Regions from separate parts of the Homo sapiens genome. Here region 2 is linked to region 1. Evidence: fine-mapped QTL for protein levels in blood plasma. A gene starts in region 1. The other region holds a variant in brackets. All regions are shown on one strand. Distances are from middle to middle. Region 1 holds the start of ITGA6 (integrin subunit alpha 6). Region 2 overlaps LOC107985960 (a long non-coding RNA gene).

What was found. PIP is the chance, under the fine-mapping model, that this variant and not a neighbour inherited with it causes the effect. The UK Biobank Pharma Proteomics Project read protein levels with antibody pairs (Olink). The fine-mapping took linkage between variants from a reference panel, not from the people measured, so its PIPs are less certain.
Region 2: its variant is fine-mapped to the plasma level of the ITGA6 protein (UK Biobank, PIP above 0.99).

Annotation. Positions count from the first base shown.
Region 1 is chr2:172,411,924-172,427,858 of GRCh38, reverse strand. It overlaps ITGA6 (integrin subunit alpha 6), which reads right to left and starts at 273. Exons shown (of 26, transcript NM_000210.4): 1 at 1-273. The coding sequence starts at 70. RefSeq lists a silencer at 246-325 and an enhancer at 11,698-12,199.
Region 2 is chr2:172,270,294-172,286,228 of GRCh38, reverse strand. LOC107985960 (a long non-coding RNA gene) reads right to left here. Exons shown (of 6, transcript XR_001739773.3): 2 at 5,349-5,492. Among named protein-coding and RNA genes, the nearest start is that of ITGA6, 150 kb to the left of the region's middle. RefSeq lists an enhancer at 15,709-15,935. The variant T/C (reference allele first, on the strand shown) is at 10,083.

The DNA of each region.
Region 1 (15,935 bases):
AGGCTGCGCCGAGCCGGGACAGGAGCCCCGCCGACAGGTAGAGCAAGCACAGCTGCCCGGCGGCGGCCATGGGCGGACGCACGGGGAGGGGAGCGGGGACCTGCAGCGGCCGCCCTGCGCTCCGGGCTGGGTCCGAGGCTGCCGCGCTGCTGCTACCGCAGCCACCTTCGCCTCCTCTCGCCGCTGCGCCCGGCCCCACCCCCGGGACGGGTCGCGCTCTCCGTCCGGCCGCTCCCCCTCGCGGGCAGCTCGCGACCGCTGAATGAGCCCGTTGTTCTCTGGAGACTCGCAGGCGTTTTATCAAGTGACGAGGACGCCGGCCCCGCCCCTCCCCACCCTCTCGCCCCTCCTTGCGCGCCCGCGGCCCGGCGCACCGCCCGCACCTTACCCGCCGGCTCTGGCGTCTCCAGCTGCCCGGTACCTGCCCGGAAGCCACGACGTGGGAGCCCCGGAGGCGAGCTCGCGGCGAAGCAGCCCCACTGCGCCGCCCTCTGTGGACAGAATTGTGGTTGCCGAGTAGCACAGAGCGAGGGAGACTTTACTACCCGTTATAAAGAGAAGTGCAGGTGATGCACCGGGCCTCATGGCCTGAGCAGCCTGTTCTTGCAGATGTGGGCCCACGTGCAGATGCATACGTCATTCATTCATTTCTACAGGTGTTTATGGAGCGCTTAAGGCGTGCCCAACACTTGGGGACTACAGCTGTGTAGACTGTTCTGGGTCCTCAAACACCTAACAACCCTCAAAAATGATCACAGCGCACACCTTGATAGTGCTGTATAATGTACACAACCCAGCCATTACCTCAATTCATCCTAACAGTCCTATGAGGTAGGTGTTTCTTTTTGCAGATCAGAAAACCGAAGTTCCGCCTTGTCCCCAGATCACCTAGGATTTTGCCCAGGTGACCAGGAGAGCTTGTGGAAGAAGTCACGCAAGTCAAGGATGGGTTGTTTAAAGTGGCGCCAGGAGCTCAGGCGACGATGCCGTTCTTTCCTAGCCCCGGACTTTCAGAACTAGTTGTGGGGAGAACTGCTGGGCCAAGAGACAGCTCCGAGTTCTGTGTAGGTGGCATGAAGGCTCCTGCCTCCAGGACATGAGGCGGGGCTCCAGTGAGGTGTTGGCCCTAGGGGCAACCTTATCCTGCAGGGGTTCTTAACCCGAGGAGAGGTAATTAATTCAAGAGTACTGTGAACTTGGATGAGAAAAAATTTACGTCTTAATTTTCACCAACCTCTGACATTTAGCACGTTTTGCCATTATGAACGTAGACAACAAACTACAGTAGCAGTAGGATAAGTATTTATGACTTAGTAATCACTAGAAACCATAGGTTTTTACATCACATCACAGTTGTTGCAAGTATCTCAAATAACAGTAGTTATTAGACAATCAGCCAGATATTATATGTCAATAATGAAGCATATATATTGCTCTAGCACAAATTTTTAAAAACATTTTGTTAGCTACATTTCAATATTATTGGCTTTTTTTGTAACCTCTTGTGGTTTCTTTTATGTATTTAAAACCCTTATTCTGAGAAGAACCCCATGGTTTTCAGCAGCCTGCCAAAGGGGTCCCATGGCATGAAAAGGTTGGGACGTGCTGGCCTGAAGCCTTCTGGAATGCCTTGGGGAGCCCTCTTTGGAATCTGACATCCCTGCATTGGAAATACAAGCAGGGTGCAGCCCCAGGAAAGAGCAGGAGCTGTGTGTGCATAGGGGTAGGGGTGGCCTCTTCTTCACCTCAAGGAGTATTCAAGAGAACAGCATGTGCCACTCAGAAAAGCTGCGTGAACATCATCAAGGGTCCCCACAGGTGGTAGCAGCTGTCAGAGTAAGTCCGTCAGTATATTAGGGGTGTGTACCACTTCCTTTCCAATCAGTAACTCCAGTCAATTATAGTCCAAAGTGGGGTGCAGTGGTTTAAATTCAGTAGATGATTTTGGAGAGCACACAGTTTTAACAAATATATCTTGATAAGGTTGAGAAACTATTGGAGACAATCTAGTAAACTAAGAAGTACTTGCAACGTGATTTTTCATGCAAATAAGTTGCAAGTTAGCCTTTTCCCTTCGTGTAAAATATGTACTATTCCAGAGAGATGGGGTCCAGACTATTATAGGCATAGTATAATGAACCTCACTGCAGAGTGTACTCAGCCAGGAGCTGGTGATTTGGCTGTAATGGTTACTGAAATATTCTGAATTGGTTGATAAAAGCTGCTGCCCTTAGTTCCTCACAGGCAACCATCCCTGCCCTGCCCATTTTCCTAGGACTAAGCAACTTCCTCACAACCTGGCAAATGAAAGTTTAAGCCCTTAAGCCCTGATGCAGCAAGGGCTCCCTCTGCTTGGATATCCCCATGTCACACCAGCTGTTAACTATTCTGAATATCACCCCTTGCTTCTAAGAGTAATTCTGTGGACCATTGATTCCTGTCTTCCCAAGATGTGTTTAGTGGATGATGTATGAATGGCCAGAGTTATTTACTTTATCCCAAACACAGATTGTGCTCAAATTGAAATTCTAAATAATATTAAATTTAAATATCACAACTACATGTATAGCACTACTGAAGCAAATTATGCTTGTGTGGGAAGAGGTTCAGATAAAGAAAAACAAGGCTGGGAGTCTTGTTCTGGAATATGTCAAGTGCCCATCGCAAATGGAAAACTTATTAGCTCAGTGCTCCTACCTGCCACCTGTCTCCTACCTACTTGAAGTTGAGTCAAACTCTCACTCTCAACATAGATGCCGAAGATACTTGAAGTTGAGTCAAACCCTCACTCTTGACATAATTTATTTGAAGATTGTCAGCTCCTTCTGACTATAACCATCAAGTTTTGGCCAGGCACAGTGGCTCACGCCTATAATCCTGGCACTTTGGGAGGCGAGGTGGGAGGATCACCTGAGGTCAAGGGTTCGAGACCAGCCTGGCCAAAATGGTGAGACTCCCCCCCACCCAACCCCACCACCCCGTCTCTACTAAAAATACAAAAATTAGCTGGGTCTAATGATGGGCACCTCTAATCCCAGCTACTCGGGAGGCCAAGGCTCAAGACTCACTTGAAATGGGGAGACAGAGGTTGCAGTAAGCCAAGATTGCACCACTGCACTCCAGACTAGGTGACAGAGCAAGACTCTGACTCAAAAAAAAAAAAGAATCAAGTTTTGTGACTCAGTTGTTATTTCCATTGTAAAACAGAGTTGGGTGTTTTACAAAAGTGTCTTACAAAAAGGAGGTTTAGAGGTCATTCTGGATCCACTGAGGACACATCAATCTCTGGGGCCAAAGGAATAAAAGAATTCAGAGCCCTAAAAATTAAAGACCTGGGGAGGGAGTACACAGTTTTAATGGGGAAAACAAAATCTGGGACAGGAAGATACTTGTCTGGAACCAAAGGGAGAGAGATAGCTTGGTGATAAAGGTGTGCTGAGTATATAGGGCATGGGGCATGTGTGTGTGTGTGCTAGCACACATGCCTATGAAAACAAGACATGCACAGTGCAAGAAGGGCCCTACAAATCCAGTTAACTGGCAGAACCGTGTCTAAAAAAAAAAAAAAAGGGCCGATTAGAAAACGAAATAACACATCACAGAAGAAACTTCTATAAACTGAACATTTTTAATTAAAAGGCAGTGAAAGCTATGCATAGAGGCATTTGCTCAGGTGAGAGCTTTTGAATTCTTATGTTTTACCAGTACACTTTTCAAAATAAAATTATTTATTTGTACTATATCCCACCCTCTGTAGAAGAGCTTTCAAGATAATTTTAGAATATTGGTCATTTATGGAGAAGTCTGAAGAATCCATGTCATACCTAATATATTTTCCATTCCCTGAGACCTACTTTAATCATTTTGTTATCATGTTCACTGTTATATTGACTTCATCATCACTAACAGCAGAGAATATATTTGCTTTTTTCATGCAACATAAAAACTAGTTATTAGGCCGGACGTGGTGGCTCATGCCTGTAATCCCAGCACTTCTGGAGGCTGAGGCAGGCAGATCACCTGAAGTCAGGAGTTCGAGACCAGCCTGGCCAACTTGGCGAAACCCCATCTCTACTAAAAATACAAAAATGAGCCGGGCGTGGTGGAGGTGCCGTAATTTCAGCTACTCAGGATGCTGAGGCAGGAGAATCGCTTGAACCCGGGAGGCAGAGGTTGCATTGAGCCGAGATTGCACCACTGCACTCCAGCCTGGGCAACAGAGCAAGACTCCGTCTCAAGAAACTAGTTAATGAAAACATCTCTTTATTCTCTTTCTGTGGTTACATTATCCCAACAGTTTTACATATTTCCTGGAGCCCTTTAATGTGAGGCCATCCATGAGAGTGGGTAGCACATGGTCTCTGGAACCCAAGTTCCTTATTACGGATCCTGCCTCTGCTCCACGCTAGCCACAAGGCCATTTAATCTCTCCATGTCTCCGTTTTCCCAGCTGTAAACCGGAAATAACAACATGTCATCTACCCCTCAGTAGTTGCTTTCTCTTAAGAATTAGTAGAGTTGATGTTATCTAAAGCACTTAGAATGTTGCATCAAAACCAGAGCTCCCACCTGTGTACAGTCTTTCAAGATACGGCTTTTATGAGCTATGCATTGACCACAATATAGTTTCGTGAACTAAACTTAATAAACTGTTCTGACTAGGGATTCTACTATTCAATGGCAGATTTTTTGTTCCAGAGAAAGAAACAGAGTTTTCCCATACTGTTTTTTTATTTGTCTTTTTATATTAGTGTTCAGAGTTTTCTCTTCGACACTGAAACTTAATGCTTTTGTGTTTAAAAAAAAAAGTGACATTTTATTCGCTCTAAGTCACAGACCATTTAATAGGGGCAAACCTGCCTTTGGTTGGGATCAGGAGACTCCATACTGCCAGCTGTTCCTTATTTTAACACCTAGATCTATTTTGAAGTAAATTGCATTTGAATGTTTCTAATTCACTTACAATGAGCTCATTAAAATGTAGAGTGTTTCACGTTGCCATTTTAGGTGGGCAAACTTTTTTCAAGTTTGTTTTGAGGGAATTTTTCTAAGCCAGGAAGCCATATTTTGCCAGCCAGAAATAAACTCCAACCTTAAATGAATCAAGTTAAATCTAAAACTGAGTCATAAGGCTGGGGTGAAATCCCCACCTGACAAATTTGGTTTTCCATCCCCACCTTCATTAGAAACAAACATGAAGCTATGTACATCTCATGCCACACGCAATGCACTCTTGAAAGACCAAACATGGGGTAGACATTTTAAAATTAAGTTCTTTAAAGAAAAAAATTCATTGCTTTCTATAAAAATATCTCCTGTGTTGGTGGGGTGGGGGGAAAGGCTGATTTTGAGTTAGGACTTAAGCCAGTGATCTGTGGAGTGTATCAGGTGAGATTAAGGCAAACACTCATGGAAGGCAGCTTAGCCTCACCTTCTTCCCGGCTGAGGGCCTGGAGCAAGTTACCCAACTTCTTTAGGACTCAATTTGTTTTTTTTAGAGTGAATCTCGCTCTGTCGCCCAGGCTGGAGTGCAGTGGTGCAATCTCAGCTCACTGCAACCTCTGCCTCCCGGGTTCAAGCGATTCTCCTGCCTCAGCCTCCTAAGCAGCTGGGATTACAGGCACATGCCACCATGCCCAGCTAATTTTTGTATTTTTAGTAGAGACGGGGTTTCACCATGTTTGTCAGGCTGGTCTCGAAATCCCGACCTCGTGATCTGCCCGCCTTGGCCTCCCAAAGTGCTGGGATTACAGGCATGAGCCACCTCCCCTGGCCTAGGACTCAATTTTCTAATCTGTAAAATAGCCAGAATTCTTACCTCATCAGGTTGTTATAAGGATTAAGTGAGATTATATAAGTGAAGCATATAGTACAATATCTACTATTAAATGCACGCTGAAATAAAATAGTAGCTGTGAAAATGTAGGTGAAGAAAGTATACTAGAAAATAAAACAAGAGAGGACTTCAAATAATGGAGATTAAACATAGGGAGAGGCAATATGCAAATGAGGTCACTTGTGCCCCATATTTGCGTCATTTAAATGGTCAGCATAAACCATTCCTTATCGTTATAGCTTGGCAAATATAGTCGTCCCTCAGTATACACAAGGGATTGGTTCCAGGACCCCTGCACATAACCAAAATCCATGCATACTCAAATCCTGAAGTCAGCCCTGAAAATCCACATATAGACAAAGTCGGTACTCCACATTCACCAGGTTCACATCCCGCAAATACTGTATTTTCAATCTGAGAGTTTTTTTTTTAAAAAAATCCATGTGTAAGTGGACCCCTGTGGTTCAAACCCATGTTGTTAAAGAGCCATCTATAATCTCTGTCATATGATAGTTTCCTGATGCCAAGGTCTGCATAGAAACAAGTTTGTGCTTCACTCTGGGTCTGAACCATTTCTGTCTTTTGCCAGGATTTGGAGAAGTAAGAGTGGGTCCTAAACTCTGCGTCCGCCGGAACTTCAGAAGAGACAAACAGTTCAGATGACAAGCTAGCTAGGAGGCCTGGGGAGAATAAAGAGACAAAAGCACAGGGACATTACTGAACACGTCCTTATCACAACCTGCTCAGCCAAAGAGAAAGTTAGCACTATGAATTATCCAAAATCACAGCCAACTTATCATTATTTTGTTTGGAGCTTCATCTTCTTGAATACATCTTGCTGCTAATATTAAAGCAGCTTATACTACTTAAAATAAGCTGACAGGATAGTTATGAGGACATGTCACTTGATAGGGAAATCAAATCTTGAACTTTAAAATTTCTTCAACATTTTTGAATCTGGAAAGCAAGTCATTGGAAGGTGAAAAGTAGTCACTATATTTAACAGGTCCCTTCTTATGGCACATTAACAAAACATTTGAAGCAATGCAATAAATTCTGCCCTGTGAACACACTACTCTATAGAACAAATAACAAAGAAAGGAGGAAAAGAACGTAGAAATCTGAACCACCTAATAGCCAAGAATGTCCCTATTGCAATGGCTTTGTTGTCCCAGATCACATGCCCAAAAGTGAAGGGCCAAACGTTTCTGCATTATACAACATATTTCTGAACTTTCCCTGGTGAAAAAGGAGAAAAATGGGTTCACAGATACTTATATCACATTTCATGTTCAAAAATCTTTTCAAACCCTAAAGTCAGTGCATCTCCACAAAGCAAAAGCCAGTGTCCTAATTTTATGTCTGGAGACACTAAAGCAGGGACTTTTCCTAAAAAGAATGTCAGTCTCTCTGACCAAATTAAAATTTGGGATTTCCCGACTTCTGATTTCATAACCCAGACCACTCCATTGAACCCTTCTTCAGCCTTGGCAGAGAAATTCTCCATGGAGACCAAATCTCCTGCTTCCCAAACAAGGAACTGTAGCAGTTTGTAAAGTGTGATCTTCAGCCAATGTGTTTTCTGGTGGGGAAAAAAACGTGTTACACCAGTAACACGTTGTCAGTTAGGTTGGGAAGTTCAGGCATAAACACATGCTACTTGTTCATCCTGCTTACAGAAGGATGCAAAGCACAGAAAGCCTACTTAGGGGGATTTGTGCCCCCACTTAATCCAATAAGCCACAGTGAATTTTTTCAGCCTTAGGCCCTACTAGGAAATAGAGCCTCCAATCCATTGCCCCAGAAGTTTACTTTCCCCAAGTAGCCAACCCACCCCTGGTTGCTGTTGGTTACAGAAACAGTTGGGTAAATGCCACATTGGTTGAAAAGGAGGTAAGAGTATGGGAGACAGTCACCTCTTTGATTTTGGAGGGCTTTTAGAATTTCCTAATTTATACTCTGTAAATAACCAAAATACATCTATTTCTCTGAGACTTTATGTGCTGACTACAGTCAGCTAGCAATGTCTTTAGTGCTTATAAACAGTTCTCATCTGTATTTCTAAAATAATTCCAATGCAGGGAAAATAATTTGAGAGTTATGTGTATTTTGAAAATATACTCCAAAGTTGAAACCTTTTCAAATGTTAATCAAAAGGATTTATAGCTATAGATTATACTCCAGCCATCAGCCACTTATGTAACAGTGAAACAGCAAAAGAACTAACATAGCAAACTCCATTTTTGTTTAAGGAGCCTTTAGCCTGCACGTAAGCTAGGATAATTTTGGAGCACTGAGAAAATATGCAAAAACAACAATCATGTAGTTTTTGCAACGAACTCTGGGATTAAAGGGAAAGTATGTAAACAATTAACTATGTTTTGTTAAAGATTTATAGGAGTGTTGTGACCTGACCAAGGACAGAGTTGTTCCCAACCTCCTCAGACCCTCATTGGCGTCCAGATGTCTGCGGTCGTTGGTCACCTCTTGATCCCAAACCTCTCTTCTTCCCTCTGTCTTTAACATAAAAAGAGCCTGAAATTTGTACTGTCTTAATATGGTACTTTAGAATGCTAGTCCACCATCTTCTTTGTTTACTGGATCTCCGAATAAACCTGCTTTTCCTCCCACCAACTCTTGCCTCTCAAGTTTTGGCTTTTGGGAAGCAAGTAGCAGAATCTAGGTTTGGTTACACTTACGATAAATTCAAAGAGGAAGGTGGGCATTAAGTAGACACTCTTTCCATCTGCCCCAGCTCTCCCTTCCTAGTCAACAGTCTGCATATCCCTTTCTCTTATCTCACACTGAGGGACACTGTGATTTATTTGCCTACATAGATGCCTACTATTAAATCCTTAGTTCCTTCAGAGTAGGGACCATGCCTTGGTCATTTTTCTATCCCTGATGCCAAACACTGGCCCTAGAGTACAGAAGCTACCAAAAAATCATGTATGTTACCAAAGGGTTTTTACCAATCATCATTTTTATGCCAAAAGGCTTCTTTGAAGTTGAAAGGATTTTTTTGTTGTTGTTATTATTTTTAGAAAATGTGTCATCCTTGTGTTACATTCTTAAAATGGAGCATACCCAATAGTGTACTTTATCCAAAGGGTACATGCTGTCTACCCAGATGAGTAATTCTCATGGAAATGAAAAACTGCATCAAGTCAGCTGATTAGCAAGGCACCATTTTGGACTCAAGGTCTCTGGTGCTATAATGCTGTCTACAATCCAAAGATATCGAGGAAAAAGTTAAGATGAGCTGCATAATCTAGAATGGAAATTCCTAGAGCAGGACTTTGGGGCGGTTGGAGGGAAAATGGGGAGAGAAGTGTAGATTGGAAAGGGGGCCATGATGACTGCAAATTGAGAAGCCCCTTGAACAAAGCAGCAGGGTTCTGGGAGGGGTAGATTCCATAAATTGGAAAATGTATTTGTTTCACTCTTTGGTCTACTGTGCCAAGATACTCATAAAGCTACCATCTTCAATGTGTCCCATCCTTTAGTCACCATACAAAGACATGGTGACATGAACTAGAAAGGAAATGGTTGAGATGATAGACTCCTCTAACCATTTCTCCCTCCACTGCCCAACCCACCCAATGGTAAATAACTGGGTCAGTCTCTGCACCCTGCCCTCTCCCTATTCCAACTGTACATATCCAGATGGTAAGAGGCTCAATGCCAGCAAGGTCTTCTCAGGAAAATATTTGGGAGAAGGCATGCATTGAGTATCATAGCAGACATGGCTAAGGTTTATGAGCTTGAAGAATACTATGAATGTGCCTTTTCATTGCAATGAAAATGAAAAGACTGAAGGAAATGGCCTCTGTTCACACCTGCAAGGATGATATGGTGTCCTTCAAAGCCACAACTATAGTGTACATAGAATTCTGGAGACATCGGAGATATGTGAAGGAGTATGGTTATAGTATGAGATGGCAGACCATGATGCAAGGAATGGGAAGAAGCATTCAATGTGTGAGTCCCAGAATTTAATACTTATGGGCTGTGTTGTTTTACCTAAACATCAATTTTCTCTGTGATTTATTCAAGCTTGACAGTAAAATTTCCAGCCAAGAGTTATCCATTTGAAAGCTAGGTTATTACTCCCAGTCATATATTCCATTTAATGGATCTCTCAAGTGTTAATGAATATTATTAAGTACTGAGTTCATGATAGAATTAAAAGCCATGGGCCAGGCGCCGTGGCTCACATCTGTAATCCCAGCACTTTGGGAGGCCGAGGCAGGCGGATCACTTGAGGTCAGGAGTTTGAGACCAGCCTGGCCAACATGGTGAAACCCCATCTCTACTAAAAATACAAAAAATTAGCCAGGCGTGGTGGTAGGCACCTGTAATCCCAGCTACTTGGGAGGCTGAGGCATGACAATTGCTTGAACCCAGGAGGTAGAAGTTGCAGTCAGCCGAGATCGCACCACTGCACTCCAGCCTGGGTGACAGAGTGAGAGTCTGTCTCAAAAAAAAAAAAAAAAAAAAAAAAAAGAAGTAAAAGCCATGTTGGTGGGGAGAAGAGCACCGACAAAACCAAATTTAGAGCCTATGTTCTAAGAGAAACCAAGCCTGGCAGAGAATATGGCATCTTTTGAATAAGGAATATGCCTTTTTTTTTTTTAATTTGGGTTTCTTTTCTAAAGAGTATTTTTTTCTATTTTCTTTTTCATTTTTGGGTAAGATATGTGAAAAATGACTTGATATAGAATACTGAATTATTTTTCTAAGGTCAAAAGAAAGTGTTTGAGGCAGATTCAAGATGGCTACAGATTTTTTTGATACTCCTCTCATTAAGAAGTGGGGTCTACTTCCCTTTCCCTTGAATCTGAACTGGACTTAGTGACTTTCTTGACCAATAGAAATTAGCAGACATGATGACCTGGGAATTTCAGGACTGAAATATAAGAAATCTTATGTCTTATTCCTAGGACTCTTGGGAACTCATTATTGAACCTTAAGCCACTATGTAAGAAGCCTAGCTTCCATGGTGGAGTGAATATGAGGCCACATGGAAAGGGAGAGGTCCAACTGAGCCCATCCTTCTAGCTGTCCAGGCCAAGACTGTGGAAGTAAAGCTATCTTGGAATCTACAAACCTGCCTACCCACCAGCTGAATAACCGAGTATCCCCAGCTGACACTAAATGGAGCAGAAGAACCACCCAGCCAAGCCCTACCTGAATCACAGACTCACAGAATTAAGAAGTATTTATAAAATGGTTGTTGCTTCAAGCCACTAAGTTTTAGGGCAGTCTGTGATGAAGCAATGGATGGTGTAAAATTCCCACAAGGGACTCTTCTGATGGTGGGTGTCAGCTTCTATTCAGAAGCTGACCACTTCCTCTGCCATTGTCACAGTGGGAGCAAGTCTGCAGTGCTAGGCCAGGGTCTACAAAGTGATTGAGTCATGCTTTTTGAGAAGTGAGATCAGTTATACTGGCTAAAAAGGGACTAAAAAGAGTTTTGGGGGTGATGACTTTATGGCTCCATGACTAATTCCCAACCACTCAATAATAGGTCCAAGGCATGTGCCACTGGGATAGGTTTTACACACTTCCCCCAAGCCTCTGGTTTAGGGTGGGGATGGGAGATAGCTAGAAACAAAAGCAGCTCTGTCTGACATCGTGTGGTTGGTGATCACTTCCATGGATCCACACGGTGCTCCCTGGCCCACTTCATCTTTACTTTAAAGAGTCTTTTCCAATCCTTAGTTCTTATTGGCGTTAAACATACCTATGATCAGAAAGAATTTGAAAATGGCACTGTAGAGTTTCTGGTAGGCAGGAGGGCAAGTCCCAAAGTGTCAATTCAATGTGGAGCCTACGAACTCCAATACAAGGGAGGCTTTCTACAAACTTAAAAGATCTTCTACCCAAGTCTCTTAGCCTCCCTCTTCATTAAAGATTTTGTGTTTTCCCCCCTCTCCAGCTCTAGTTTCATTTTGTGAAAAGGTTCACTGCCTTATGTGCCATGAGCAGACAGGCTTATCGAATGAACTGTAAATCTAATCAGTTTGCCACAGGGGTTTCATGGGAGCCATGTAAACAATAGCTGGAGTTGTGTTAAGCTTCAGTGACTCCAACTGATTCCCAGTTTGGTTCATTTGTGAAGAACAGTTGGAGATACAAAGCCAAGCCCATTAATTTCTAAAGAGCAATTCTAAGAGAGGAATGAGCTGTCGATCCCCAGAAGGTTTTCACTCCAAGCTCTAACTACAGGATTTTATTTATGGCATAACGTTTGTCTTCCAGTTACTGTTTCCTTCCATTTCTCCAATATTCTGTATTTCTAAGGAGATCCTGGCAACTCTTATTGAAATTGGAATCCTGTGGAGGAATTGAGCAGAGAACTTCTCCAAGTTCCTATGGTCTCTAAAATAGTGATCAAAGTATGGTCTTGGATCCCCCACCTGTGTTCTCTTTAAAATGTAATTGTGCCCTATGTTACTTCTGACAAACGGACTTAATTAGTTTCAGTTCTAGTTCTCATTCAATACTTTTACAGAAACACATTTTTGATTTGAATTTCACTCTCAAGACTATAAAGTTTATATAGTTATACTGCTGAAGTCACACCAGTTTTTAATCTCCTAAATTCACACATACTTAGTTTCCAGATGGAAAAATGAATATTCACCACAGCTCTATTAGGAATGCCAATTTCCCATCAGTCCCTAGCATTGGGCAATGCAGTTATAATACTGTGTTAATTTCAGACATCTTCTGGTCCTCCGAGCCTTGTATTTACATACTAGCTGAAACTGCAAGTGGAAATGAATGGAGCTGATGATATTTGCCTTATCCTAATTTTTCTGTGAGGAGGAGAAAAACACTTGTGCTTCAAATAAGCAGATGTGAAAACACTTCTCACTAATCAAAATGTTTACCACTAGGTTATGAGAGTCTGCCTCTCATAGGCAGTGAATCTGATATGTATACTTAGTAATATAAGTCTATTTAGTTTGACAAAACCTTAGAGCAGAATTTTTGCAGCTTAGTTCAGGATGATCACTAGCAATGCCAAACTTCATTTTTTATTGAACTTGGATCCAAGAAGGCCTGCTGTGTCTATTTCAGTATAGACTCTCATACCAATATATTTATGCTCCAAGTCACTACACCCAGAAGTGATGCAGTGGGGGAAATGCAAAGAACAACATCACTGTAAGATTCACAGAATGATCTTTGTAAAATATTTTATATTGACTTAAGGAAACTTTCATTGGAATTAATTAAATTAAGTCTCTAATATTCTGGAAGACAGTAAAAATCAAGCAGTTGTTCTCAATTTGATCCCGGCAGTTGGAAATATTCATAATAGGAAATTCATGAAATAATACATATGAAGATGACAGAAAATTACCAATGTGATTCTGTAAAGAGCTTGGCATAGCAACTTGTCTAATTTCTTTCTATAATAAAATTATGGCCACATAGACTGATAGAAAGCGACTAGGAAATCCATCTGTATTTTCGCATGTTCTCGCTCATATGTGGAAGCTAAAAAAGAGTTGATCTCATAGAAGTAAAAAGCAGAACAGAGGTGACTGAAGGCTCGGAAAAGTAGGGGGAAGGCAGCCATAGGGAGAGATTTTTAAAGGATACAAAATTACAGCTAGATAGGAGGAATAAATGCTGGTGTTCTGTATCAGTGTAGGATGTCTACAATCAATAACATATAGATTCAAACAGCTAGAAAGAGGATATTAAATGTTCCCAAAGCAAAGAAGTGATGTCTGACATGATGAATATGGCAATTACCCTATACCATGATACATTATATGTATTGAAACATGTCTGTTATATGTACAATTATTGTCAATTTAAAAAAATAAAATTTTAAAAATGGCTTAATAAAAAGACCACTGTGATTGTAAAATTCACAGAACTCCGCCTGAAACTAGCTTAAGCTATATAGTTGGTATTCAACAAAAGGTTATGGAATTAATTGTGACAATGTAACTATTCTGTGGAGTATTTACCTTGTAGTAGATACTGTTCAAAACATCTTAGGTTGATTAATTCTTTAAATCCTCACAATAGCCTGTCTCACAAATACTCTTAGCGGTGCCATTTTATATACAAGAAAAGTGAAGAGCAGCGGGGTCACAAAAGCCCCCCCACACCATACAGCTCAGAAGTGTTGAAGCCAGGACTTGATCCCAGGCAGGCTGGCTCCAGAGCCTGTGCAAGCAACCCCCACTCCCAACCGCTTCCCAGAACCTGGGACTCTATAGGTTACCCATCAAGAAAAAGTATACTCTTTGACTTTATTTTGGTATGAGTTACAGTTTTGGCTTATGGATTGAACCCAAAAGGTAGCAGTGTTCAATGGGACAGTATCCACCTGGGATATTCAGAAGAAACTCCCATGGGGTTCATTTTTACAATCAATCTTATTTAATATCAGTATTTATTAGGTGGATAAAAAGCATTAGAATATATGCCCCCAATTTTTATATGACAATAAATTTAGTAGAATTGTTAATATTCTGGGAGATAATGAAAATTCCCTCTCAGAAAGTGGGGAGAATAGTTCTATGAAAACTATTCGGTTCACTTAAGATGTACCAGATATTTATCAATCACAATGCCTGATCAGTTGCTCCCAGCTGCATGTTCTTTGAATGACAATTTCACATGCCCAGCATGAAGAGGGACATAGGTGAACACCTGACCCAACGTGCTGGGTCACTCTTGAGCCTCAGTCACTCCACAGGCTGGAATGAAAAAAATGAGCTGGTCCTATCAAATCCTCACTCTTGGGAATTTGCTTTGGAAGACAGAATGACCCAGTTGGCAACCAGAACTTAAGTTGGAAAGTTACGATGTGGGGAAAGGAGAAGAGAGATCATTGTGGCCAAGTGCATGTGCAAGCCAAGGCCACAGAGAACAGGAGCTTTGAGGGAGCAGAGCAAGGTGGTCACTTTAGAGAGATGAATGAGATAGAAATGCGGAATGAAAGAGAATAGGGGAACGGGAGGAGACACACATGAATGAACATGAGAGGCCAGACAGTGGCCCTGTGCCAAGCTGCCAAGATTTCTGGTGGTGCTTGGTTCCATTGTAGTCCACAAGGACCCTTACAACAAGCCCCATGGCCTTAGATAACTCAAGAGGGTCTTTGTTCCTTGTGAAGAGAAAAACCTGATGCAAAAAGTAGATGAATAAAAATGGTTAACTTTTGGGCAGAATCCTCCCACCCAAAAATAAGTTGAGGAAATATTAATGTGGAAAAAGAAAAATGACCTAAAATTAAGAATAATCTACCTATGTGGAAGCATTGTTTTAAAAAACCAATATAATGTTGGCCTATATGAAAATGAATGCATTATATAAATCATGGATTTCAAAGAGCTAGGGGTTTTGTTTTTGCTCTTTTAAAATCAGATCTTACATAGCACACCATCTCATCTTAGTCATCCTTTTAAGAAAAGACATACGGCTTCTGACAAGGGTTCCAATAATAATCAAAATTATTAAGGTATGACTTATAAGTAAAGCCACAGGGAGTTTGTGCTATGTGGTCTAGAGAGAAGAAAGCTAGTGGTGATTTCTTTTTTATCTTTAAGAGTATTGGCTGAGGTGTGAGGATTGCTTGAGCCCAGGTGTTCAAGACCAGCCTGAGCAACACAGTGAGACCTTGTCTCTACAAAACATAAAAACAAAAAAATTAGCTGGGCATGGTGGCACTTCCCTGTAGTCCCAACTACTTGGGAGGCTGAGGTGGGAGGAAGGATTGCTTGAGCTGGCGAGGTCAAGGCTGCAGTGAGCCAAGATTATGCCCCTGCACTCCAGCCGGGGCAACAGAGCAAGACTCTGTCTCTTTATAAAAAAACAAAAACAAAAACAAAGAATATGGAAGAAGCTGAGCATGGTATCTCACATCGGTAATCCCAGCACTTTGGGAGGTCAAGGCAGGAGGATCACTGAGCTCAGGAGTTCAAGACCAGCCTGGACAACATAGTAAGACTCTGTCTCTACAAAATAAATAATAAACAAACAAACAAACAAACTGGGTGTGGTGGCATGCTCCTGTAGCCCCAGCTACTCAGGAGGCTGAGGTGGGAGGGTTGCTTGAGCCTGG
Region 2 (15,935 bases), 140 kb after region 1:
CCAGCACTTTGGGAGGCTGAGGCGGGCAGATCACTTGAGGTTGGGATTTCCAGACCAGCCTGGCCAACATGGTCAAACCCCGTCTCTACTGAAATACAAAAATTAACCAGCCGTTGTGTTGGAGGGGCAGCTGAGGCATAAGAATCGCTTGAACCTGGGAGGAGGAGGTTGCAGTGAACCAAGATCATGCCACTGCGCTCCAGCCTGGGTGAAGAGTGAGACGAGAGAGAGAGAGACAGAGCGAGAGCGAGAGAATGAGAGAGAGAGAGCAAGGAAGGAAGGAAGGAAACTAAACCAAACAGTAGTTCAAAAAAAAGTTAAGTGATTTGCGGAGATCAAAAGGAAGGAAGGAAAGAAACAATAGTGCAAAACAAGTAATTTGCAGAGATCACAGAAGTGGAGGGACAGCAGGATTTGAAACCAGGCTGATCTGACTCCAAACTACCCGACCTCACCCACACCAACAGCATGTTGTGCCAGCAGCCTTTTGTGCCCCTGTGGAAGAGCAGGATAGGGGCACTGCACAGGTTTCATTCACTGGAAGGGAGAACTTCTTGCCCACAAATAAGCACCTTGGACTCAGCTAAATCCAGAGAACTCTTAGTCTCACCTAATCCAAAACTGCTAGATTTCAAATCCCAAAGGACTCATTTTGCCTCTCAGCAGGCCCAGCACAGACACGTAGCCCTGACAGTTTGCACTGAGGATTCCAGATTCCAGAATGGAGCCCAGCTGTGCAAAGCCACTGAAGCTGTGACTGGCAGCCGCACTCACTGACCTTCTCAAAGGCCTCTGTGCTCCCAGGCCTGGAAGAGCATTATTTTAGGGATAATGGCTGACAGCTGCTGCAGCCTCGTGGGTGCCCAGCCCCTGTCCACCACATCCTTAGGAATCTTGGTGGTTCCAGGCTTTCTGGCCCAGAGTAACCAGCTACTGGAATCCTGGAGTTACTTCATTAAACTGGTTTCAAGTTACATGCTTTCTTTTATAGGACTGGGGGGAAATGAAACCTGCCAGCCTATTGTCTGTGCTGTACATAACCACTTCTTTCTTGGTGAAATTTCTCCCAGCTCCTGTGTCCCCATCCTGAGTGCAGTAGGGAAGTAGCAAAAGAATTGGTTTTGCCAAATAAAGTTTAAAATGTTGGCCAAGACCAGTGTCGTGCCCCTGTTGCCTCAGCAACCAAGCTGAGGCAGGAGGATCGCTTGAGGCCAGGAGTTTGAAGCCAGTCTAGACAATAGAGCAGGACCCTGTCTCTACAAAATATTTATTAAAAAATTAGTGGCCATGGTGGTATGCACTGTAGTCCTAGCTACTCAGGAGGCTGGTGTAGGAGAATCACTTGAGCCCAGGAGTTCAAGGCTACAGTGAGCTATGATTGCACCGCTGCACTCCAGCCTGGGGAACAAAGTGAGACCCCATCCCATAAATAAAACAGTCTCTACTTTCTGAGTATTTTGTTCCCCACTGCACTCTTGCAGGCTGAGTGTTTCATCGAGTTCCACAGTGCCTTTGCATATCTTATGCATATCTAGAGGACAAGACACCATAAGAGAGTGCCTCCTGTTTTCAGTTTTTGTCATTATCATTAGCCTTCCAATGGTCAACTGCCAAATAGGCCACTTTGAAGTAGGTTTGCCCTCTTTCTCTCCTTTTTTAAACTCAGATGTGCATAGGTAGAATGGCTGAAATGACTCTTTAGAAGAATGTGTTCTTTCCATGCTAAATGCCTCAGATCTCAGCTAATCTTGCAGAGCTGGACAGGATCTTTGAACAGGTTAATGTAGTGGTTGGGAAAATCTCCCCCTGGGGAAATTCCTCAGTCCTCTGACAGCCAGCATCTGCGCAGGCGAGGGCACATACCCCTTTGGGGCAGTCTTGGAGTGTTCTCCTCCCTTGGTGGATTCACAGAGTGCAAGGGGTACCACAGAAGGAGCTGAAGGCTCCTGTCACTCTCCCATAAAACCCCTCCACCGATGCAGCATGGGGCATGACATCATTAGGGGAGAAGATGGGAACGGGATGATTTGGATTCAGGCAACTGGGGTCAAATCCCACCTCCACTGCTCACTCGGTAGGCAACATTAGTATATCCCTGAACCTCTCTGTGCCTCAGTTTACACATCTGTAAAACAGGAATAATAATACCTGCTGCACAATATGGCTATGGTTTTGTAAATGATACAGCACTATTATCCATAATAGTAGTAACCTTAAGGAGATGCTGAAGACTCTTTTCAGATTTGTCCCAGTGCTTACATCTACTACATTTAAGGGGAGTAGGTTTGAAGATAAATTTCATTATCCTTGTCATCACTGATACCTTCATGAGTCAAGCACCAGAAGTAGACTCGGCACCAGATGAAACATGGTCATCAAAATTATCCCTGAAAGGCCAGTTGGTCAAGATATTTCAGACATCAAAAATATGCCCCCCGGCCCCACCCCCGAGGCCTCAGCTGCATCACATTCCTTCACTTGGACCCGCCTGCAGACCACACAGTATCTCAGGGCAATTTCACACTCTCTCTACCGACTGCCTCTTGCTATCTGGATTGCACACTCAGGCAGCCTGATTCCTGTCTGGTCAACCACATAGAAACCAAGGGAATGAGAGCTAATGTAATTGGTTGAAGTCATTTCCAGAAATATGCTATTGGGGACATATCGAGAAGGTATCTGGGTTCTAAACAGGAAATCATAATAATCAGACTAATGCAGCATCCAAATTACTTCAGGGAAAACAATTGTTACAAAATCAAACTACAGACATACCAAGCTCCTCATCAGAAATAGAAAGAAGCTTCCTTTTTCATTACACCTCTTTTTTCCAGCAAATTTCTTGCTCATTCTAGAATGAATCTTGACTATTCACAATCCCTATCATTGTTCCTGAAATAACACCCTCATTAATTATGCCTACTCTGAAATACAGTTTAACCTGTTTTATAGTTAACAGCAGCCTTAACATACAGTCCCAAGTGAACCGTGTAGAGAGCCTCAGAATTACAAACGTAAAGTGACGGCAAAGGAAGAAAATATATATGCCTTCTAACTGACTCAGAAATGGGCTTCCCACACCCCCTGCAGTCATGTGCCACACAGTGACATCAGGCAACAACAGACTGCATGTATGATGGTGATGCCATAGGATTAGAATAGAGCTGGAAAATTCCTATCCCCTGATGACATATTGATGATCCTGACCCCGATGATTAAGCCCGGGCTAATGTGTGTGTAGTTGTCTTAGTTTTTAACAAAAAAGTTTAAAAGTAAAAATAATAATAATAAAATTTAATGAAAAAAATGTATAGAATAAGGATATAAAGAAAATATTTTTGCATAGCTGTATAATGCCTTTGTGTTTAAAGCTAAGTGTTATTCCAAAAGAAGTTAAAAACATTAAAAAGCTTATAAAGTGAAAAAGTTACAGTAAGCTAAGGTTAATTTATTATTGAAGAAAGAAGAGTTTTAAAATAAATTTAAGCCAGGCACAGTGGCTCACGCCTCTAATCCCAGCACTTTGGGAGGCCAAGGCAGGCGGATCACTTGAGGTCAAGAGTTTGAGACCAGCCTGGCCAACATGGTGAAAGCTCATTTCTACTAAAAATACAAAAATTAGCCAGGCATGGTGGTGGGCAACTGTAAGCCCAGCTACTAGGGAGGCTGAGGCAGGAGAATCACTTGAACCCAGGAGGCAGAGGTTGCAGTGAGCGAAGATCATGCCACTGCACTCCAGCCTGAATGACAGAGTGAGACTGTCTCAAAAAAAGTAAAATGAATTTAGTGTAGCCTGAGTGTGCTGTGTTTATAAAGTCTACAGTAATGTACAGTAATGTCCCAGGCCCTCACAATCACTCACCACTTACTCACTGACTCACCCAGAGCAACTTCCAGTCCTGTAAGCTCCACTTATGGTAAGTGTCCTTACAAGTATATCATTTTTTATCTTTTATACCATAACCTTCTCTATGTTTAGATACACAAATACTGATCATTGTGTTACAACTGCCTATGGTATATTCAGTACAGTAACATGCTGTACAGTTTTATAGCCTAGGAGCAATAGGCTATACCACACAGCCCAGGTGTATAGTAGGCAGTACCATCTAGAGCTATGCAAGTACACTCTATGATGTTTGCACAAAGAAATCGCCTGACAATGCACTTCATAGAACATATCTACATTGTTAAGTGACACACAGTTGCATTTCAGCACTCCATGCCCTACTTCTTTATATATATATTAATAGCTTCGAGGGAATGGGTAGTCATTTAGCATTAATAAGCAATGAAAAGTGGAATCTTTTTCTTGTTTCAGAAAGTGACAGTAAGCAGTCTAGAAAATGTGGACAAGATGGAGGAAAGGAAAGAGTGAAGGGAAGAAGGGAGAGTAGAAAGGAAAACCAAGATAACTTTCCTCATGTCCTGAATCTGATGAGCTCAGACTGTCTGGCACATGCCCTTCAGGTAGGTGATAGGGCAGTGTTGGGCTGATTCTGGGAAAACTCTCCTCTACAGAACTCAGGTGTCTTTAATACAGTGTAGTCCATTTTGTTCTTTTTTCTTCTGTTTCTTAGCGATGGGTTTGCCTTTTTAGGGGTTGGCTGGAAACGAGTACATTATCATCGACCACTGACAAAGCAACAGGAGGACATCTTCTGTCCCTGGGCACACGCTGGTTACCCATCAATCACTTTTTATTGACCTTGAACTAAGATCCATAAATTCAAAAACTGCAATTTAAAAATTTTATAGGCAAACTAATGGAATATCAACTTCTACAAGGCTGATTCTTCAATAACACACTTGAAGGACATAGTCCCCTGCCAGGGATGGAGCTCTGTTTGCTGATTTTTCACTAAGGGAAGGGAGGAAGGAACACTTAGTGAGCCTCCAGTGTGTGCCAGGCACCATATGGGGTGCTTTACATATATGATACCAAATCTAAGTTGCCACCAACTGTAACACGCCCAGCAGGAAAGCAAACCTACTGCCGATTAATTGAAAGATGCCATCCAGGGTGTATTTACTGGGAAGCTAAGAGAGTTTCAGCCTCAGGGCCCTTCATTTGCATGGGCCCTTCCAATGTTCTTGGAGAGGGGCCAGCAGTGTGTTCACGTGGCCATATATTTTTGTAAAATTTGCAAAAGATATTTTAACTGCAATCAATTAGACCACTGTCTCTTTCCACTCTGACTTCCCCTCTGTCACACTTCCCCTTATGTGGGTGGCACTGGAGTGGCTATGGGCAACTTGGGGATCCTATTAAAGGGGAAGTTGAGCTGGGGATACATTTAGTCTGGGTTCAGTGGGACGTTTGTATGTGGTCTGTGCAGTTAACTTACTGCTGGGCATGCTGGGATAGAAATGGCTTCACCGCTTCTCCCCTCCACCACACTAGCTCTCCTGGCAGTAAGAAGCTCCAGTGCAGGGCTCCAGGCTGTATCCAATATAAATACATCCCACCACACTCGCCAGCAGCATATGGCCTGGGCAGCAGAAAATAAACAAGGTGTGAAGTGTGTGAGCCAGAATTTGGTCTGTGGAAAATTTTCCCAAATCTCATAGTTCATATAGGAAAGAAACTTCATAGAGGTTTTCCCCAAATTTGACAAAAAAAACTCTCAAGATTTATATGACATTACCAAAAACAGTTGTGAAGCTGGAAAACACACATTTTACTGTTGATAGTAAAAAATAAATTTTCGTCAACCATTGAGAAGGAAGACTGAACTGTCTATTCTCTCTATAGAAAACAGACATAACGAATTCATTGTCATACAGCCCACTCCCCTCCAAAAATGCAGGGCAAAGAAGTATAACAGAAGTGGGCCAGGCAGTTAATTTTTACAAATATTATGGTATTTTATGTTGTTTGTGATTTATATCACCTTTTTAAAATTTGTGGTTTGTTGTGATTTTCCCATTTAAACAAATATTCATGTTCTTACCTAATTTTGCACGTATTATTTTCTCTTTTTTATAAAGGTCCCTGAATAATATAGAGTTCAGGCCCCATAAAACTGGGGTTGTCTAGACCCCTGGATGCCATCCCAATATCAGAGACCTTTCTAATGTATGGGTGGAAATAAGAACCTTAGACCTGATTAAATACATAGCAGGTATTATTTCCTTAATTCCACATAACAACACTGGGAGGCAGGTGTGTCATTTTACAGATGAGGAAACTGGGCTCAGGAAGTTGGAAATTTTCCCAAAATTACTGCCATGGCTACATTGGCAATATTCAAAACTTAAAGCCACAAAGTGAGGCCTGAACTTTTTGAGGAGCCCTAAAGTTCCTCTATCTCCACTGAATTAGTAGAATGCAGAATCAGGATTAGAACCAGACTTTTTATCTGAAACCTTGAAGCCTTACCACAACACCTCTTTGGAAAAGAACTTCCACTACCTCCTTACAGAAATTTATATTTCCTGTTAATCCTCCAAAAAGGTATTTCATTTTCATCCTTATGTGTAATTTTGCAATTAAATGACTATCTTCTGTTCAGGAGTTTTAGGGATTTTAGAAAGGACCCATCCCCAAACTCTGCTCCCAATTGCTGTCCCCCGTGCCCAGACCAATCAGAGAGGACTTTGCCATTAGACACCCTTTGAGTTAAAACATAAAAGCTCCTTCCTCTCAAAATGTATATGTATACTTAGAAGTAGAAACTCAATGAGGAAGCTATTCTTCATCATTAAGAACTTAACAAGAATGTATATTTCAAAAGCACTAACACCGCAGGATTCCTGGGGGGAAGGCGTTGTAGTGGTGCTGGCAGGGTCTGTTTTGTTATGGAGGTGGGGCAGACACAGACGGTCCCAGGCAACCAGAAGGCAGCAGTGCTGTAGCCATTTCCACCTCCATTCTACCTAGCACACTATAGTTATTAAAAACTAATCAGGCCAGTGCAGTGGCTCAGGCCTATAATCCCAGCACTTTGGGAGGCCGAGGTGGGTAGATCGCTTGAGCTTAGGCATTTGAGACCAGCCTGGACAATGTGGCAAATCTTGTCTCTGCAAAAAATACAAAAATTAGCTGGGCTTGGTGGCGCATGCCTGCAGTCCCAGCTAGTCGGGAGGCTGAGGTGGGAGGATCGCTTGAGCCCAGGGGGCCAAAGCTGCAGTGAGCCAAGACTGTACACTGTACTCCAGCATGGATGACAGAACCAGACCCTGTTTCAAAAAAAAAAAAAAAAAAAAAAAAACGCTAATCGGTTAGTTCCTGGTACAAAACTTCTCCTGGCCATTAAGCTGGCACCACTGAATCCAGTATTTCAGGGGACTACATACAAGCAGTCCCAGTGGGGACTTTCCATCCTTGCAGATGTCATCACCGACACCAGCCTGAGCTCCCTGTCTCCCTTTGCCATGATTTATGGGGAGAAAGCTGAGGTTTAAGGCAGAAGTTTAATTGGCGGTCCACGAAACTGCTTGAAATTTGTTGCAGGAGTAAGATGAGACTGCAATTCTTAAGGGAGACAGTCAAATACTAAAGGGATTTATGAGCTCCCCAAAAGTTTAAGAACCACCGTTGTAGAAGAAAAGCACTGAAATAAAATTAGTACAAGTCTCAGAGGGAGGCTGATACCAAAAACATAGTCAAGTGATGTCAGGTGGTGCGTGTGTAGGTATGTGGATAAGAAAAAGTTTGTTACGTTTAAGTGGTGTGCAATGTTTTTAACTTGCTAGATAATCAGTTAAGAAATTCTGGTTTTTATTAAATCATTAAAATAATTAGTTAATATTTTCTCTCTTGACATGCCTATATTATATACATAATACTAGAGGATTCATCAGACTTCCATTTTTAACTTACTAGATCGTTTTATTTTTAATAATACAACTGAATGAGAATCCTATTTTTGGCTCCAAGTCAGACTATAAACAGAAAATATTGAGCTGCAGAGAAATCACCTTACCACAGTTTCATTTTGACCTTCTATTCCACAGCCATTTGTTTAATACATTTTGCTTTGTGTTTAGAAGTGCATTATTTATTATCTGAATTAAGCTGTAATTTGTTTCCATTAATACAAAAAAACGCTCTGCCAACTCAACCAGCTTCTTGTATCAATGAAAATCATGATCTCATTAGGAGTTGCTTTAAGAAAAAATGCAGCTTTTTCTTTTTTTTTTTTTTTTTTTTTTCCTGAGACAGAATTTTGCTCTTGTTGCCCAGGCTGGAGTGCAATGGCGCAGTCTCAGCTCACCGCAACCTCCACCTCCCAGGTTCAAGCAATTCTCTTGCCTCAGCCTCCCAAGTAGCTGGGATTACAGGCATACACCACCACGCCCTACTAATTTTGTATTTTTAGTAGAGACAAGGTTTCTCCATGTTGGTCAGGCTGGTCTCAAACTCTTGACCTCAGGGGATCCGCCCACCTCGGCCTCCCAAAGTGCTGGGATTACAGGCATGAGCCACTGTGCCCGGTCAGCTTTTTCTTAAGAAAGCAGCTTCTCTGCCCGACCTTCATCTTGCTTCCTTAACCCATCTCCCTCTGGATATGCCAAAATGCTTCCATCTCATACTTCTGTCCTGTTGGGTCCTTCCAATCCTTGACCCACCACCCCACAAACCTAATTTGGGCACCTGAGTCAGGGCTTTCCAGTTTGTGTCTTTGAGAGAAAGGATCTGCCCTTAGCTTGAGAGAAACTGTAACCTGGAACAACACGCCCTTTAATAGGGATGTTTGTTCAGCGTTGGTTGCACATTCATCCAAACCCACTGCACAGCTCCCTTGAGCACCACCTCTTGAGAGGGTTTGTTAGACTTATTGCAAATAAATGGACAAAGTTTTCAAGAGGTAGCATTTCTTAATTTCCCAAATGGTTGGGTTTGGGGTTTGGTTATTTGAGGCTTGTTTATTCTTTTTTATTTCTACAAAGATGATTGCCCCTCTCTGCCCCTCTCCAGCCTTCCTGACCACAGCAGACCATGTGATGATGTGAAAGCAGTTAAGCCCAAAATGCTTGACATCATTCCCATATTTGGGGACTTTCCCACCCTAGAGGTTCTTACCTCCCCACAGCTGAAACCAGAAAACTGACTTTCCCTGATTCCCTTGCAGCTAGACCTCACCATGTGACCCAGGCTCTGCCAATCAGATAGTCTAACAAACAGCTTCATTTGGAATTGAGGCCATGAGCAAGCCAACTGTGCAGAATCCATTTGCTAGAAAGGGTGGCAGTAGTGTGTCCAGATCCTAGGGGCAACAATGGCATGAGCTGTGCTGAGGGGGTCTAGACTTGGAGGCAGCTGCAGAGACCCTTTCTGACTCACTCCCAGGGTGTGGTTGGTTTGAGCCTTGTTCTGACCTGCTGGCCTACAAGCCTGACTTTCTGGCCCTCTAGAAATTTTGAAAGTATCTTCATATCCTCTAATAAACTCCTTTTTCTGCTGAAACGACTGCAAATGGGTTTTGGTTTTGGTAACAGATCCTTGATGGATACAATGCCCACGAAGACCTGCATGGTCTCCAGCCAGCCTGCTTCTCCTATTGGACCTGTTAGTGTTCTTCCCCTCTTACTGGGCCCTCGTCTTCTCCCCCAAGGAGTTAAGTTCTCTCCTGCCTCAGCCTTCGCAGGTGCTGTTTCTCAGCTGGGAATGTTCTGCCCCTGCTCCAACCCTGGCTCCCTCCTGAACTCCAAACACAGCTCAAAACTGACTGGGTTAAGTCTTCCCAATACACCCTCCTGGCATCCTAGACTAGCCCTGCTTGGTACTCATCACAGTTGAAATTAAATACTTAGTTGGTTAGTGATTTTCTCTCTGAAGAGACTGTAATAATCAAAATAATAACATTTATTGCACTCTTTCCAAATGCCAGGAAGACTTCTAAGCACTTTACATGGATCACCTCATTCCATCTTCACTAAAACCCTAACGAAAGTATTATTATAAAACCTATTTTACACATGGAGAAACTTAGACCGAGCACTTAAGAAACAAATCCTAGGCCACACAAAAAGTATGGGCTGGAGCCAACATCAGAACCCAGAAAATCTCACACTAGATCACACTCTTAATACCATCTGTCATCTCTACAGTGGGTGCCTGCATCCCAGAACTTGTG[T/C]AAAATAAGTTATTGGAAGGTGAGAAGAAAATATTAGAAACTTATATAGATATATACATTTGTAACTCCTCTGGATTAATTTATTTTGCCTGTTCATTTTGTAATGTACACAAATCATTTTACTTGATGTGCATAACATAGCAATATATTACATAATTTATAAATAAAAAACAGAGTAGTTCAGCTCAATGTTTTTCCTATAGGGATGTAAAATGACTAATGTTTGGAGACTACTGCTCTCAACTATGAGCTTTGTGAAAGCAGGACTGTCACTCACAGCACCTCAGCAGCTAGCACAGAAGCCTGACACATAGCTACTACCTGATAAATATGTGTTGGCTGAATACTGTCCCTTCTAACACTGGGAATGCCAGCACCAAAAGAAAGAATGCTCCAATGTCCACTACATAAGTTCGTTCAGGTTCCCGATATTTCTGTGTCTGTGATGACTTCCTTTCTTGCTCCTTCTCAGATTCTGAATCCGAGACATGATGTTTTCACCCATGCTTGTAGACTCGCCGCTCCCAGCAGAGAATAATGTTCATTTGAGCAAGAGGCAGCAGCAGCCCCCAGGCAGCCTGTGGTTCCTGGATTATTTTGCACTGACCCGCTGTCATTGCTAGTGAAGCATAGGTAGGGGATTGCTGGTGCAAGGTGCAGCTCAGGGACGTGCAAAGCCACTTGTGGAAACTCTGCCCACCCCTGTTCCTCTTTCTGCCTCTTTTGACCTGCCTAACTAATTTGAGCTCCCCATTTCTCTGCAGATACAAAGACTCCTGAAGGCTTGGGAGGGAGCGAGGACATGGCTGAGCAAGGAAGAAAGGGAAGGGGACAACAGGATTTTTATGAAGGAGTGAAAAGGAAGGACAATTTGAGAACATGACCTGTCTTCCTTCTCTGACATGGAGGCTGGTGAAAGTGAATCATCACTGAACAAATTCTTGCTAAGTTAAAAACAAATTAAAATCGCCATCTAATGTGGGTAAAGAGATGCAACTAGCTAACTGCGTGGGTGTGGATTTCCCACATGGCCCCTGAAAGCACTGCTTTGGACAGGGCTCCTACCCCATAAAGCTTATTTTTCAGTCATTTTTAGAACTTGCATCAGTTCAACTGTTTTTAGATAGGTTTGTGGGTTGTTTTTTCTTTAAAAGTCTACACAAAGCAGCCTGTGGAAATGTCAGAGGCATGTGAACCAGAACAACTCCATCTTTAATAGGAGCTGGGTAAAGTGAGGCTGACACCTACTGGGCTGCATTCCCAGGTGGTTAAGGCATTCTAAGTCACAGGATGAGATAGGAGGTCAGCACAAAGTACAGGTCATGAAGACCTTGCTGATAAAACAGGTTGCAGTTAAGGAGCTGGCCAAAACCCACCAAAACCAAAATAGTGACGAGAGTGACCTCTGGGCAGCCTCACTGTTACACTCCCACCAGCGCCATGACAGTTTAAAAAATGCCATAGCAACGTCAGGAGCCCTATGTGGTCTAAATAGGGGAGGCATGAATAATCCATCCCTTGTGTAGCATATCATCAAGAAATAACCATAAAAATGGGCAACCAGCAGCTCTCGAGGCTGCTATGTCTATGGAATAGCCATTCTTTTATTCTTTTACTTTCTTAATAAACTTGCTTTCCCTTTGCACTGCAGACTCGCCCTGAATTCTCTCTTGCACAAGATCCAAGAACCCTCTCTTGGGGTCTGGATCGGGAACCTTTTCCTGTAACAGAAACATCAGACCTAACCACCAAAGAACATTCCGGTTAGAGGTTTACAGGTCAGGGAGCTGAGCCATGTGAAGACGCCAGCAGCTGTATTTGCAGGCACAGGTGTGGCCCTTTGCAGGGCAGCCACAGAAGGTCAGCCTGACCTGTGGAAACCATTCCTGGGGCTAACAGAGACCCATGGACCAGTCTCCCACTGGCAGACTCGCTATCAGTCTTTCTTGTTAGACCTCCACCACCTTAATGCCCATGTGGGTGGCATGGGGGATGCAAACAGCAGATGGGCTCAGTCTATTGTGCTGCACTCTCTAGACAGGAAGTGGCAATTAACTGCTGCAGAGTGGGACTGGTTGTTGATAAAGGCCCCTCCTACAGCTGTATCCATTCTGTGTTCAAAAACAAATGAACTACCCCATCCACGTCTTCTTTGAGGAGACAGCTCTGAAGCTGGCCTCCTCCAAGGGGCCACCTGCCAGACTCTTCAGAGGCACAGTTCTCCTTTATTTAAGGCATATGAAATTTGATGGAAACATTCAATACATATTTAAATTTTTATTTTTAATTGACAAATTATATATATATTCATGGGGTACAATGCAATGTTTTGATATATGTATACATTATGGAATGAGTAAATCAAACTAATTAGCATCTCCATCACCTCATCTGCTTAGCATTTTTTTATGGTGGGAACATTTAAAATCTACTGTCTTAGCAATTTTGAAAAATACAATTCATTATTATTAACTATAGTTATCATGCTTAATACATTTTTAAAGCTAAAGATATCTTGAAATCATTGTTAAAGTGACCATACTGTCCAAAGCAATCTACAGATTCAATGCAATCCCTAACAAATTACCAACATCATTTTTCACAGAATTAGAAAAAAGAATCCTCAGCCGGGCGCGGTGGCTCACGCCTGTAATCCCAGCACTTTGGGAGGCCGAGACAGGCAGATCACGAGGTCAGGAGATTGAGACCATCCTGGCTAACATGGTGAAACCCCGTCTCTACTAAAAATACAAAAAGAATTAGCTGGGCGTGGTGGTGGGCGCCTGTAGTCCCAGCTACTCAGGAGGCTGAGGCAGGAGAATGGCATGAACTCGGGAGGCTGAGCTTGCAGTGAGCTGAGATTGCACCACTACACTCCAGCCTGGGCAAGAGAGTGAGACTCCGTCTCAAAAAAAAAAAAAAAGAAAGAAAAAGGAATCCTCATATTCATATGGAAACAAAAAAGAACTCAAATAGCTCCTAAGCAATCCTAAGAAAAAGGAGTAAAGCTGGAGGCATCAAATTACCTGATTTCAAATTATATTACAAGGTTATAGTAACCAAAACAGCATGGTACTGGTATAAGAATAGACACATAGATCAATGGAACAGAACAGAGAACCCAGAAATAAAGCCACATACCTACAACCAACTGATCTTCGACAAAGTCAACAAAAATATACACTGGAAAAAGGACACCCTATTCAACAGATGTTGCTAGGAAGATTGGATAGCCATATGCAGAAGAATGAAACCGGACCCATACCTCTCACCATAGACAAAAATTAACTCTAGAAGAATTTAAGGCCCAAAACTAAAATTCCCAGACAAAAGCTTAGGAAAAACTCTTCTGGACATTGGCTCTAGGCAAAGAATTTATGACTAAGTCCTCAAAAGCAAACACAACAAAAACAAAAATAGGCAAATGAGACTTAATTAAATTAAAAAGCTTCCGCACAGCAAAAGAAGCAATCAGCAGAATAAACAGACAACCTACAAAATGGGAAAAAATATTTGCAAACTATGCATCCAACAAAGGGCTAATATCCAGAATCTACAAGGAACTCAACAAGAAAAAACAAATAGCACCACTAAAAGGTGGGCAGAGGACATGAACATTTTTCAAAAGAAGGCATATAAGCAGCCAACAAACATGAAGAAATGCTCAACATCGCTAATCATCAGAGAAATGCAAATTAAAACCACAATAAGATACCATATTACACCAGTCAGAATGACTATCATTAAGAAGTTGAAAAAACAACAGATGTTGGTAAAGATGCAGAGAAATAGGAACTTTTACTCTCTTTGTGGGAATGTAAATTAGTACAACCTTTATGTAAAACAGTACGGAGACTTCTCAAAGAACTAAAAATAGAACCACTATTCTATTCAGCAATCCCAATACTGGGTATATACCCAAAGGGGGAAATATCATTATATCAAAAAGATTCTGCACTTGTATGTTTATCACAGCACTATTCACAATAGTAAAGATATGGAATCAATCTAAGTATCCACCAATGGAGGACCGAATTTTAAAAATGTGGTATATACTCATATTCTCACTTATAAGTGAGAGCTAAACAATGAGAACATATGGACACAGGGAGGGAAACACCACATACTGGGGCCTATCAGGGGTTGGGGGAGAGGGAGCATCAGGATAAACAGCTAATGCATGCAGGGTGCTTAATACCTAGGTGATGGGTTGATAGGTGCACAAACCACCATGGCACACGTTTACCTATGTAACAAACCTACACATCCTGCACATGTATTATTATTCCACATGAGTGGAATAATAGACACTGGAGACTCCAAAAAGGAGGAGGGCAGGAGAAATGTAAGAAATCTGCACATGTAAGAAATCTAGCTGGGTGCGGTGGCTCAGGCCTGTAATCCCAGCACTTTGGGAGGCCAAGGCGGGCAGATCACAAGGTCAGGAGATCATCCTGGCTAACACGGTGAAACCCCGTCTCTACTAAAAATACAAAAATTGCTGGGCATGGTGGCATACGCCTGTAGTCCCAGGTACTCTGGACGCTGAGGCAGGAGAATCACTGCAACCCGGGAGGAGGAGTTTGCAGTGAGCCAAGATCGCGCCACTGCACTCCAGCCTGGGCAACAGAGCGAGACTCTGTCTCAGGGAAAAAAAAAAAAAAAAGAAAAAAGAAAAAAAAGAAATCTGCCATTATACTCACTAAATCTATAAAAATTAAAAATAAATCTTAAAAAGGTATCTTGAAAAACACTTTATAAAATACATTTTAAAAATATTTTCTCTACAAATATGTACTTGATATTCACATTTATTGCTATTGTTTGAATCTGCCCCAAAATTCTTGGGTGGAAATGTAATCCCCATTTGGTGGTGTTAAGAGAAGGGCTTCTGGGAAGTGATTAAGTCATCATGATATAGGAGTTAAAAAGAAATTATTTAGGCAGATAGTGAGGGTAAGGAAGTCCTCAGTAAGGTTTTCCTTTTAATGAAAAGTGCCCCCAAATCATTTTCTTTTCTAACAAAGAGCAGCCTGTAAAATTGAGCTGTAGACATAAACAAGGAAACTGGAAGCTTGCACAAGTGAATGCCCGTGGTTGTGCCAATAGAAGAAAAATGCTATCTGGGACTAGGCATGATCAAAATGGTGGCTCTAACTTCTCTTTGCCAGCCACATGTACAGTAAGGAGCAGACAAGGTGGCACCAGCCAAGTGGAAAGCCCATTTGCATCATAAGATTAGGGTGGGGATGACCGGCCTTCCCTGCTCCATATATAAACATTCCCAGATGGCTGAATAGGAGCAGCTCAGGTCTGCAGCTCCCAGCATGATCAACACAGAAGATGAGTGATTTCTGCATTTCCAACTGAGGTAACTGGTTCATCTCACTGAGACTGGTTGGACAGTGGGTGCAGCCCACGGAGGGCAAGCAGAAGCAGTGTGGGGCGTCACCTCACCCGGGAAGCACAGGGGTTGGGGGATTTCCCTTTCCTAGTCAAGGGAAGCCGTGACAGACTACACCTGGAAAATTGGTACACTCCCACAAATACTGGGCTTTTCCCATGGTCTTAGCAACCAGCAGACCAGGAGATTCTCTCCCGTGCCTGGCTTGGCAAGTCCCACATCCACGGAGCCTTGCTCACTGCTAGTGCAGCACTCTGAGATCAACCTGTGAGGCTGCAGCCTGGTGGGGGGAGGGGCATCCACCACTGCTGAGGCTTGAGTAGGTAAACAAAGTGGCCAGGAAGCTCAAACTCGGCAGAGCCCGCCACAGCTCAGCAAGGCCTACAGCCTCTATAGACTCCACTTCTGTGGGCAGGGCACAGCTGAACAAAAGGCAGCAGACAACTTCT